Homo sapiens: one gene and its partner. The protein of the gene in region 1 interacts with the protein of each later gene in a pairwise test. Each region holds a gene or a part of one and is shown on either strand. Other genes may lie near its edges.

Region 1 (5,604 bases):
GCCTCCTGAAGTTCTAAAGTAATAAGGCTAAAGACCTTGTAGGAAGAAACAAAAGAAAACCAAGCAAACCATGAAACAAATGAAATTTGTTGTGTAGTAATTTTTGTTGGGTAAGTTTCTGGAAAGGCAGTTAAACATTCTTTCCAAGATGACAACACAGGCTGATTAGTCCAGAGGGCTGTAGTTGTCCCCGTTCCCCATCAGCTGATTTACTTTCAGATCTATTAACCTTAGCACTACTGGAAATCATGTGGAGTAATAAATCCACTCATCACTGAGATTTTATTATTGTAAAGTTCAACAGATAACTGGATTTCCTCTGCTGAGAATCTGACTGTGAGTCATAAGCATTATCCTACACAATAAGAAAGGATGGGCTAAGGAATTACTGAAATACCTAAACTGCCACTTTTTAACGGACACTTTTTTCCTTCTGCCTTCACAGAGTGCAAATAAAACACTTCATGTTGTAAATTGATGAGAGCAGTCCTGCCTGGATGGGGCAAGACAGAAAGGCTGGAAGTTTAGTCTCAAAAACACATGCTATTCAGTTGCAGCAGCACTTTTTAGGGGTAACAGTAGGCCAAATTGAAAAGTCTTGGCAATTTTTGAACTTTCTTCTTAAAAACATATGTATTCAGGATTAAGTGTTACTTTTGGCCACTATGATTCTTCATCAGTGATTCTTTGTCAGGATTGGCAAACTTTTCCTGTAAAGAACCAGGAACTAAATATTTTGGGCTTTGCAGTCTGTTGCAACTACTCAACTCTACTTTTGCAGTGCAAAAGAAGCCATAGATAGTACCTACATAAACAGCACAGCTGTTCCAATAAAACTTATGGACATAAATCTGAATTTCACATAATTTTCATGTGTAATGAAAAAGTATTCTTTTGCCTTTTTAAAATCATTTAAAAATATAAGAGCTATTTCATAACTTGTGGGACATACAGAAACAGAGTCAGCTAGATTTGGACAATGGGCTGTTACACGCTGTTCCTGTTTTATGTCAGCCAACTATTTATTTGAGGAGGAAGACTTGCATAAATTAAATAATGCATTTGATCTTTCTTCCAGCTATTCAAATAAGGGTACATTTCCCAGCTTCTCAGTTTCTCCCTTTTGCTTATTTTGAAGCAAGGCCTTTATAAGGCCTGATAAACAAAAACTCCTGGTGAAAATAAGCAAAAGGGCAGGTAGAGTAAGTGAATATAAATTCCTCTTCAATTAATCAAATTTTTACTATAACTAAGTTTTTCAAATGACTGGAATTTTAGGAGAAAAAGACAAAGAAGGGAAGGACATAGCAGAAGCGAAGGAAAATAAGAGAAATAGAAGGAGTAAAAATGGGAGAAACAAAAATGAAGACAGAATCCTACAAAGAGAGATAGATTAAAAAAGCTAGAAGTGAGAAAGAGGCAGAGTTTACCACATGGTAGCGTCTCGATAAACGTATGTTAAAAAATGATAGTGTTTCATTAGAGATCAAAACTTGCAATTCATTTAAGGCAGAAGATTTCAAAGCAAACAAGCACACACACATTATAGCCTGCCTTTCAAATTAGTATTTTAATTAGGCACGGCTTAGTTGTTCGAATGCCCTTATCCTTAAATCTCTAGAGAAGAAATTATTCTTGGGGCTAGAGTAGCTACAGGCCAGATGGTATCAAGTTAAAAACCATGAGTGAAGACTGTAACTTTTCCTCCCTATTAAAATCCATCTATAGTTATAAATGCTAGACCAAAAGAACTGATACTGATGAAGCACTATGTGGTTTGAATTACAAAGCTTAAAATGTGTTTACTGTGAAATACTAAGGAAAACAAATGGACTAATACTTCTAAGAAAGATTTGCAATAACAGTTATTCTTTGCTTAGCTCAAAAAGAATAAGGAAAGTAAATAAGCATAAATGTCTTATTTCCTAAATATTTTAAGGATTTTCTGTAGTTTTCCTGCATTCAAATGTTTCAGGCCATACAAGAGGAAAAAAATAGGTGAGAGCAACAGCAATAATTTTAAATTTGGACCTCTCAGTCTAAAATAATGCTGCAATAGCCCTTTACCCTTTTAAAACAACATTTATCACACTTGTAATTATTCTATTCAGTTGTGTGTCTTCATGAGATTTTGGTTTTATGAAAACAGTATAGCATAATAGGTTCACAGATGGCTCTGCCACTTACTAGCTGTGTGATCTTGAGAAAGTACCTTATTATTCAACTGTGCCTCAGTCTACCCATTGAAACATAGGGCTAATAAGAGTACCTCCTCAGGTTAGTGTGATGAGTAAATAAGCTAATATGGAAGACACTTAGTGTATATAACAGGTACTCAAAAAACATTTGTTAAATAGTTGCTGGATGAGTTGAGTGTGTTGTTTTTTTGGGGAAAAGAAAAAAAAAAGACTGCCTCTCACATAAGACAAACTGAAACAGCAGACAGGATCCTGGGATACAGTACAGAACCATCTCCTGCCCAAGCAGTTGTCAACTGCTTTCCTCAAGTATTTTCTTTTTAAAAAAAAAATCAGACCTTTTCCAACCATGACGTTAGAGAATTCAGGAAAGCAGAAGAATGGGCTGAACATGGCCCATGTCTGGAAGCACCAAAACATTTATGTTCAGGAAAATTGGAGAGAAAAACAATTTCATAATGGGTATTAAGTTAATTAAATTTCATCTAGGCCTGAAATACATGAAAACAGAACAAAAACCCTCCCACTTTTTAGGTTTTTTTTTTTTTTCCCAGCTCTTTTACTTGGACATCTTAAAATTATTCACAATTAAGTTTTTCTCATATAAGTCTTTGGAGGGTAACATCGTTTTCATTTAAAAATGGGAAATGGAAGCAGAAGAAAACTAGATGATAAAGTTCTCAGTTCTTCACTGTGATTAACAGCTAAGCAGTGGCTAAAAGCTTGCATTTTTGGTGTTAGATTCCAAATCTACCACTAAATTTTCTTATCAGTAAAATGGGGAAAAGAACAGTATTTATTTCACTCAGTTGTTGTGGAGATAAAACGAGAAAATATGTAAAGGGCTTGACACTTAGGAAGTATTCAACAAGCAGTAGCCATTATTATTACCACAACTTTAAGATCACTATTGATAAGTTTAGAGGAAGAAACTTTTTATGAAGTGAATTACCTTTTGGGATCTGGGCACTATGGAGAAAATATCAACTAACAATCTGCTTGGGGACTCTATCTCTGGAGGAGAAACAGACTACACTTGGGGCAGTAAGTCAGAGTTCTAAATGTTCTTGGACCATCCTTCATACAAATCTCTTAAGTGATGGTAGGGTGATCTCAACCTAAATCTTTTAATTATAAATTCCACTCTCATTTCACTATATTCTACTACCTTACCATAGTGCTCACTTTAACTGGACCACAAGTTCAGTATAGTTTTCATTGTCTGAGACTTTAGGACTTTATTGGTTGTATCTTCAAGGATAATCTTCTGAAATGTGAGGCCAAATGCTTGGAGTTCAAGTTTCTTTAGTAGTCCCAGCAGACAGAGAAAGATTAAAAAAGAATGTAGCAACAAGTGTGTGTCAATAGAAAATTATTTTAATTGAAATGATCTATTTTAATTATCAACAAGTGTGTGTCAATAGAAAATTATCTATTGACACACACTTCCTTCTTTCTACTAACCATGACCTCTAAACTTCTCTTTCCATGCTTTAATAAATAAAAGGAGATTTCTTATTAAGGACAATATATTATCTTGGCAATTATAATCCTTTTATTGATAATATAAACCCAGACAAATAGTCTATCTGTAATAATATATAATAAACATAATGGCCATGCCCTAAAATCAACAGCTTAAGTTATAACAAACTTAATAAAATAAATGGTAAACAGAAAAACTGCTCCACCAACATAAGGCTAAGGCAAACACTTAACAATGTTATTTACTCCAGGGGGATTTTTATCTCCCTGCCTGCTTCCTTTTTCTTTGAACAAATGTTTTTGTATACCTACTATGTACTTGATACTGGGCTACTACAGTGAAGAAGGACACAATCTCTATTTTCAAAAGTGTGGTCTAAAGGCCAGGCTTGGTAGCTCATGCCTGTTGTCCCAGCACTCTGGGAGGGTAAAGTGGGATCGCTTGAGTCCAGGAGTTCGAGACCAGCCTGGGCAACATAGTGAGACCCTGAGTTAAAAAAAAAAAAAAAATTAGCTGGGTGTGGTGGTGCATACCTGTAGTCCCAGCTACTCGAGGGGCTGAGGTGGGAGGATCACTTGAGGCTACAGTGAGCTATGACTGCACCATTGCACTCCAGCCTGGGCAACAGAGCAAGACCCGGTCTCAAAAAGAAAAAGTGTAGTTTAATTATGGGAGGGGAGGGGACAGATGAGTCAAACTGATAAATATGTTATGTAATAAACATTATGATAGAGATATGCACAGGATACCAGGCAGACGCAGGGAAAGGGTATTCACTTTTTTTGTAGTTACAATAGTTTTCAGGAAATTGCTTTTCCATGCCTTCTTAAAAAAACTGATTTTGAATTCCATCTGTATCACTTTATCAACATCTTTTTTTTCCCTCAAAGATGACTAGGAATCAGTGACTGTCTTTTACTAGGTAAAATTTATACCATCAAATGGCACCAAAAATCTATTTAATCATGAATAAATATGCCAGTTTTGTAGACTTGGTCTTCCATAAGTTAATTTATGACCACTGATGGAATAACTCAGATTAATTATTGAAGAAGTTACAAAGTTCTCTCCAATCTGATTGGCTATAACAACTGAAATAAACAATCAGTCTCCCAAAGGGTTTTATTTGTTGACATGGCTCTTAATTACAGTGATACATTCTTTGCAATTACTTGCATTATTTCATTACAAAGTGAATGCATCGCCTTTAAGAAAAACTAGTCTTGCCCTAGGCCTGGTGCTATTTACCTACCTAGGACTAATTCTCAGTAAAGACAAAGAGGCAGAGTTTAGGCTTTTAAAATTCCACTGCTTCTTTCACAAGCAGCCTTCTGGAAGTCATCACTGAAGCTGTGTTCCTCCAGGCTTTTTTTGTTTATTGTCTCTCAACTTAAGTAAAGTACTGAAGTTAGACAAGGTTCTACATTTTGGTATCCATCTCTGGGATAGGGAAAATGATTCAGAAAATCAGATAGCCGGGGTTTGAAACAGGGCTGAAAATTTTAGAAACTGTGATTTTGCCATGTGAGCCGCAGTATCCTTATTGTGAAATGGTGAATAATGACTTTTTCCTTGTAGAGCTGTTACAGAATGCAATTAGATAATGTTTGTAAAGCACTTAAACTGTCTTTTGGCACAGGGAAAGCATTCAATAACCTCTATTTAATAAATTCCAGCAATACCTTTCCTAGTAGCGTCAAATTTGTTAGGTTTACATTAAAAAAACACAGACTATGCAAAATTTTATTTGTATGTCTAATTTTTGAGAGGAAGTGGTGGTTTTCATTAGATCTTGAAAGATTTCTGTCTAAACAGTAGTTAAGTGTAGAACCAAGGAAAAAAACTGGAAGTTAAAAACTCATCTATGACCACTTGTCTGTAAATAAACATTAAGTACAAAGATCATGTTGATTCTCAAAG
Region 2 (3,500 bases), on another chromosome or scaffold:
TGATATGAAATGACATTCACCTTTATAAAAAAAAAAAAAAAAAAAACCCTACTCAAAGCTACGGGTTAAAAGAGTAATAATGTGCATATATGCACCATATATAAGAGTAGAATGTTCACAGCATTGGAAATCAGTGTACCTGGGTAAATATCCATCATTAGTTGTATAATTAGAGTGGGTGGTGGGGTGACCTTTAACTTACTTATCTATAAATGAGATGTATAGTATTTGTCTACTTGACTCAAAAGACTTCAGTAAAGATAAATAAAATAGGCTATACTCTCTGAAAGCAGACTCTGAATTAAAATGACAGAAATCATTATTTCCAAATACACAGTCTTACCTTGCAAATGGTATGAAGGAAAGGCTGTACCTATAATGAAAAACAAAACAAAGGGTCAAATGAGATGAAGGGAGTAGCAGATTATCCAGCAGAATGGGCTTCTGAGCTGTAAGAATACCTGCAGTGATCTATCCAGACCCTCTCCCATACTCAGCCTGGGGGATGAGCATGTGCACACAAAGGCCCACGCATGTGCATGCACGTGTACCCAAACACACACACTATGGCCATGTACAGATAGGCAGCCACAGAAGAAGGGCAAAAGGTTCATGTGGAGATAACCCGTATGACCTCGGCCTCAATGCAGTACTGCTATAACCTTGAACTAGCAACAATCACCTTAAACAGTCAGATTTCAAATACCCAGATGGCACAGAAACTCTATTCTGAAAAAATATCAAATAAAACCCAGAACAGTTGAACCGCACCCCCCTCCTTTATTTATTTATTTATTTTTTTTTTTGAGACAGGGTCGTGCTCGTCACCTAGGCTGCTGGAATATAGTGGCTCAATCATAGCTCACTGCAGCCTTGAATTTCTAGGCTCAAGTCTAGGAAGCTCAAGCAATCCCCCTGCCTCAGCCTCCAGAATTGCTGGGACTACAAGTATGTGCCACCATGCCCGGCTAATTTTTTAATGTTTTTTTTTGTTTGTTTGTTTGTTTTTTTGCAGAGACCCGGTCTTGCTACACTGTCCAGGCTAGTCTCAAACTCCTGGCTTCAAGCAATCCTCCCACCTCAGCCTCCCAAAGTCTTGGCATTACAGTGTGAGCCACCCATACCTGGCACAGTTGAACTCCTAACATTTTATAAATTCTAAACAGAATTTAACTTCTACCTAATTGGGATAAATTTTCTGCTCTGCTCCTATTAATTTTAAAAGAAGAGAAAAGAGAATAAAAAAGAAGAAGAAAAAAATGCTACCAACTACTCTATGAGTGAAAATGTAGTACGTCCAAAGGTATCTTGGTAAATTCCAGTTAGCTCAGCCCTGTCACTTAGAAGGAAACCATATACAAGGAACAGGCTCCATAATGCTAAAGAACCAGGCACTGTGTGTCAGGCAGACTGTAAGTTAGCCCTTAGAAAAGCAAACACAGTCAGAACACATGAGTGTTGAAGGGAATATCACCATTCAGCTGGACCCATATGAATGCTGAACCTCTGAAACTGGATTCAAAATCAGTCTATAAGCAAAGCAAGGTGTGTGTATATAGGTACCAATTTCTGCCCTGGAAGAAAAATCAAAATATAAACAGTCTACCACTCAAATGTGCATGTCATTTAAAAAAAAAAAAAACATACACACACACACACACATAAACACAAACACCAGCATCCTTCTCCATATCTTATACTTAACATGTACAGAAGCTCAATTACTTGTCAACACAGTAAATTCCAAAAGGCAATTTGTAACTATATTTATTCAAAAGTCCAAAATTGCTAAAGGGAGGGATGGGAGTTAAGCTTACAGTCTCAAGATTCATTTCTACCAAATAGGAGTTAACCAATTCTTCAGAACTTTAAAATGTCCACAATCCTCCTTTCTTTACACTGTAGCAAACATTTTTTTCAAAAATAGGTGAGTCACATCTATACTGAAACTGTTCTGGCAGATACCATCCCTTGATAAACTTTGAAAGAACTACAGAAATGTCTTGGAACCTACAGATTCCAACTATGCCACCACCCCTCTCACTCTGAGGTCGTATAGGCTTGAAAGGACCATGAACCTACAGCCCCACTCATGGTTTCCCAAAATGTCTCCAGCGGCCCTTTTACTATACTTGGCTCTGGAGTTACAATTTCCTACTCTTCAGCTGAATTACCAAAAGCCAACAAGCCTCTGAGCACATACGCTGATCCTACAGCCCACAGACACACGTTTTTCCATTTCGTCAGTGACTGTTCCTCATCTCCTGCTGACAGTTCACTCTTTGTCCTTCTGTTAAATGATTCATTCTATCACAAATGTAACATTCATTATTTTTCTTACCACTTTCCTTTTTTGTTAACCTCTATTGGACTCACAAGCCTTTTTAACATCCCTTATAATACTTTTGTTGTCCTTGCACTTACCGGACATGAGTGGCTTAATAATATTTGTAACATCTCAAAAATCAACCATTAGTTCAGCAAAAATGCCACAGCAGGCAAACAAGGAGCCTCCTGTGACCACTCAAGACCACTAATGCCATCTATTGGCAGTGGGCTGGGTTGATAGGCATTTGCTCTGGAGCCTGACTTCACTTTCATCATTACGAATCCTTAAATTAAACAGCTTCTGTGTTTTCTTAATTCTCCCACCCACAATATGTGAGTTTTATCTCCTTTGGCTACATTATTCAGTGGGCTATGTGGGAGGGGATTGTTTAAAAGGTTACTTACCACGTCAATGCCAAAGACTGCAAAATGCAGAAGATAAGTGCAAGTCCCTTGTTATGCCACTGGAAAAATAATAATATGGTTATAGGAGAGTGTGAGACAAGGGGCAAAAGCCAAAATGGTTAAGAAAAATTAAAATATACATTTACCCAAAAGGCAGAACACAGGGTAAGTGCAAAACACAACTAAAGGAAGAAAGGAAACATTAATTAATGACAATAACATGGCAGGAAAAAAAAAACTCAAAACTTGTTATTCTTCACAAATGCACAAAACTTATGCATCCTTCATCTCAAAGCAGTTAACCCACCTGAGCACCCATATTTGGCAGAATAGTTAAAAATCTCCATGAAATCAAACTAGCCAATAAAGATTCACATAGATAAGATGTTCTTTTACTTTCAAGTTTTCCCAGAACCTCTGCCCAGCAAACAAATCACATTTCAGGCCCACCCATTCATCCGTCCATCCATCTTTTCATTCAAATGCACTAAAGTAAGCTTAACACAAATCTTTCTATTTTAACTCCTACCAAATGCTAGTCTCTGCAGCAGAAAGCACATGTGAGGACAAAGGTTAACCTGAGATATCAATCTCACAGTCAGCATGCCAGTTACTTGTGTACCTATCACCTAACACTTTCCCTAAGGCCATTCTTAGAAAGCTCTTTCTGCAAGAGACTTGTCCAGGCCGTGGGCATCTGAGGCTGGCCAAGGACAACTGGTGCTAGAGCAGTCAGCCATGCCTTTCTTCGCCATCCTTCTATAACA

What was found. Proteins that work in one complex are often made in the same cells at the same time.
Region 2: the proteins of STOM (region 1) and SFT2D2 interact in binary tests that used the Homo sapiens proteins (3 or more experiments, as listed by UniProt).

Annotation. Positions count from the first base shown.
Region 1 is NC_000009.12:121,362,745-121,368,348, forward strand, and holds part of STOM (stomatin), read right to left. Parts: intron 3,502-5,604; exon of another isoform or gene 3,372-3,501; intron 1-3,371. UniProt on the Homo sapiens protein: Regulates ion channel activity and transmembrane ion transport. Regulates ASIC2 and ASIC3 channel activity.
Region 2 is NC_000001.11:168,236,004-168,239,503, reverse strand, and holds part of SFT2D2 (vesicle transport protein SFT2B), read right to left. Parts: intron 2,916-3,500; coding exon 2,880-2,915; intron 2,793-2,879; coding exon 2,734-2,792; intron 374-2,733; coding exon 344-373; intron 1-343. UniProt on the Homo sapiens protein: May be involved in fusion of retrograde transport vesicles derived from an endocytic compartment with the Golgi complex.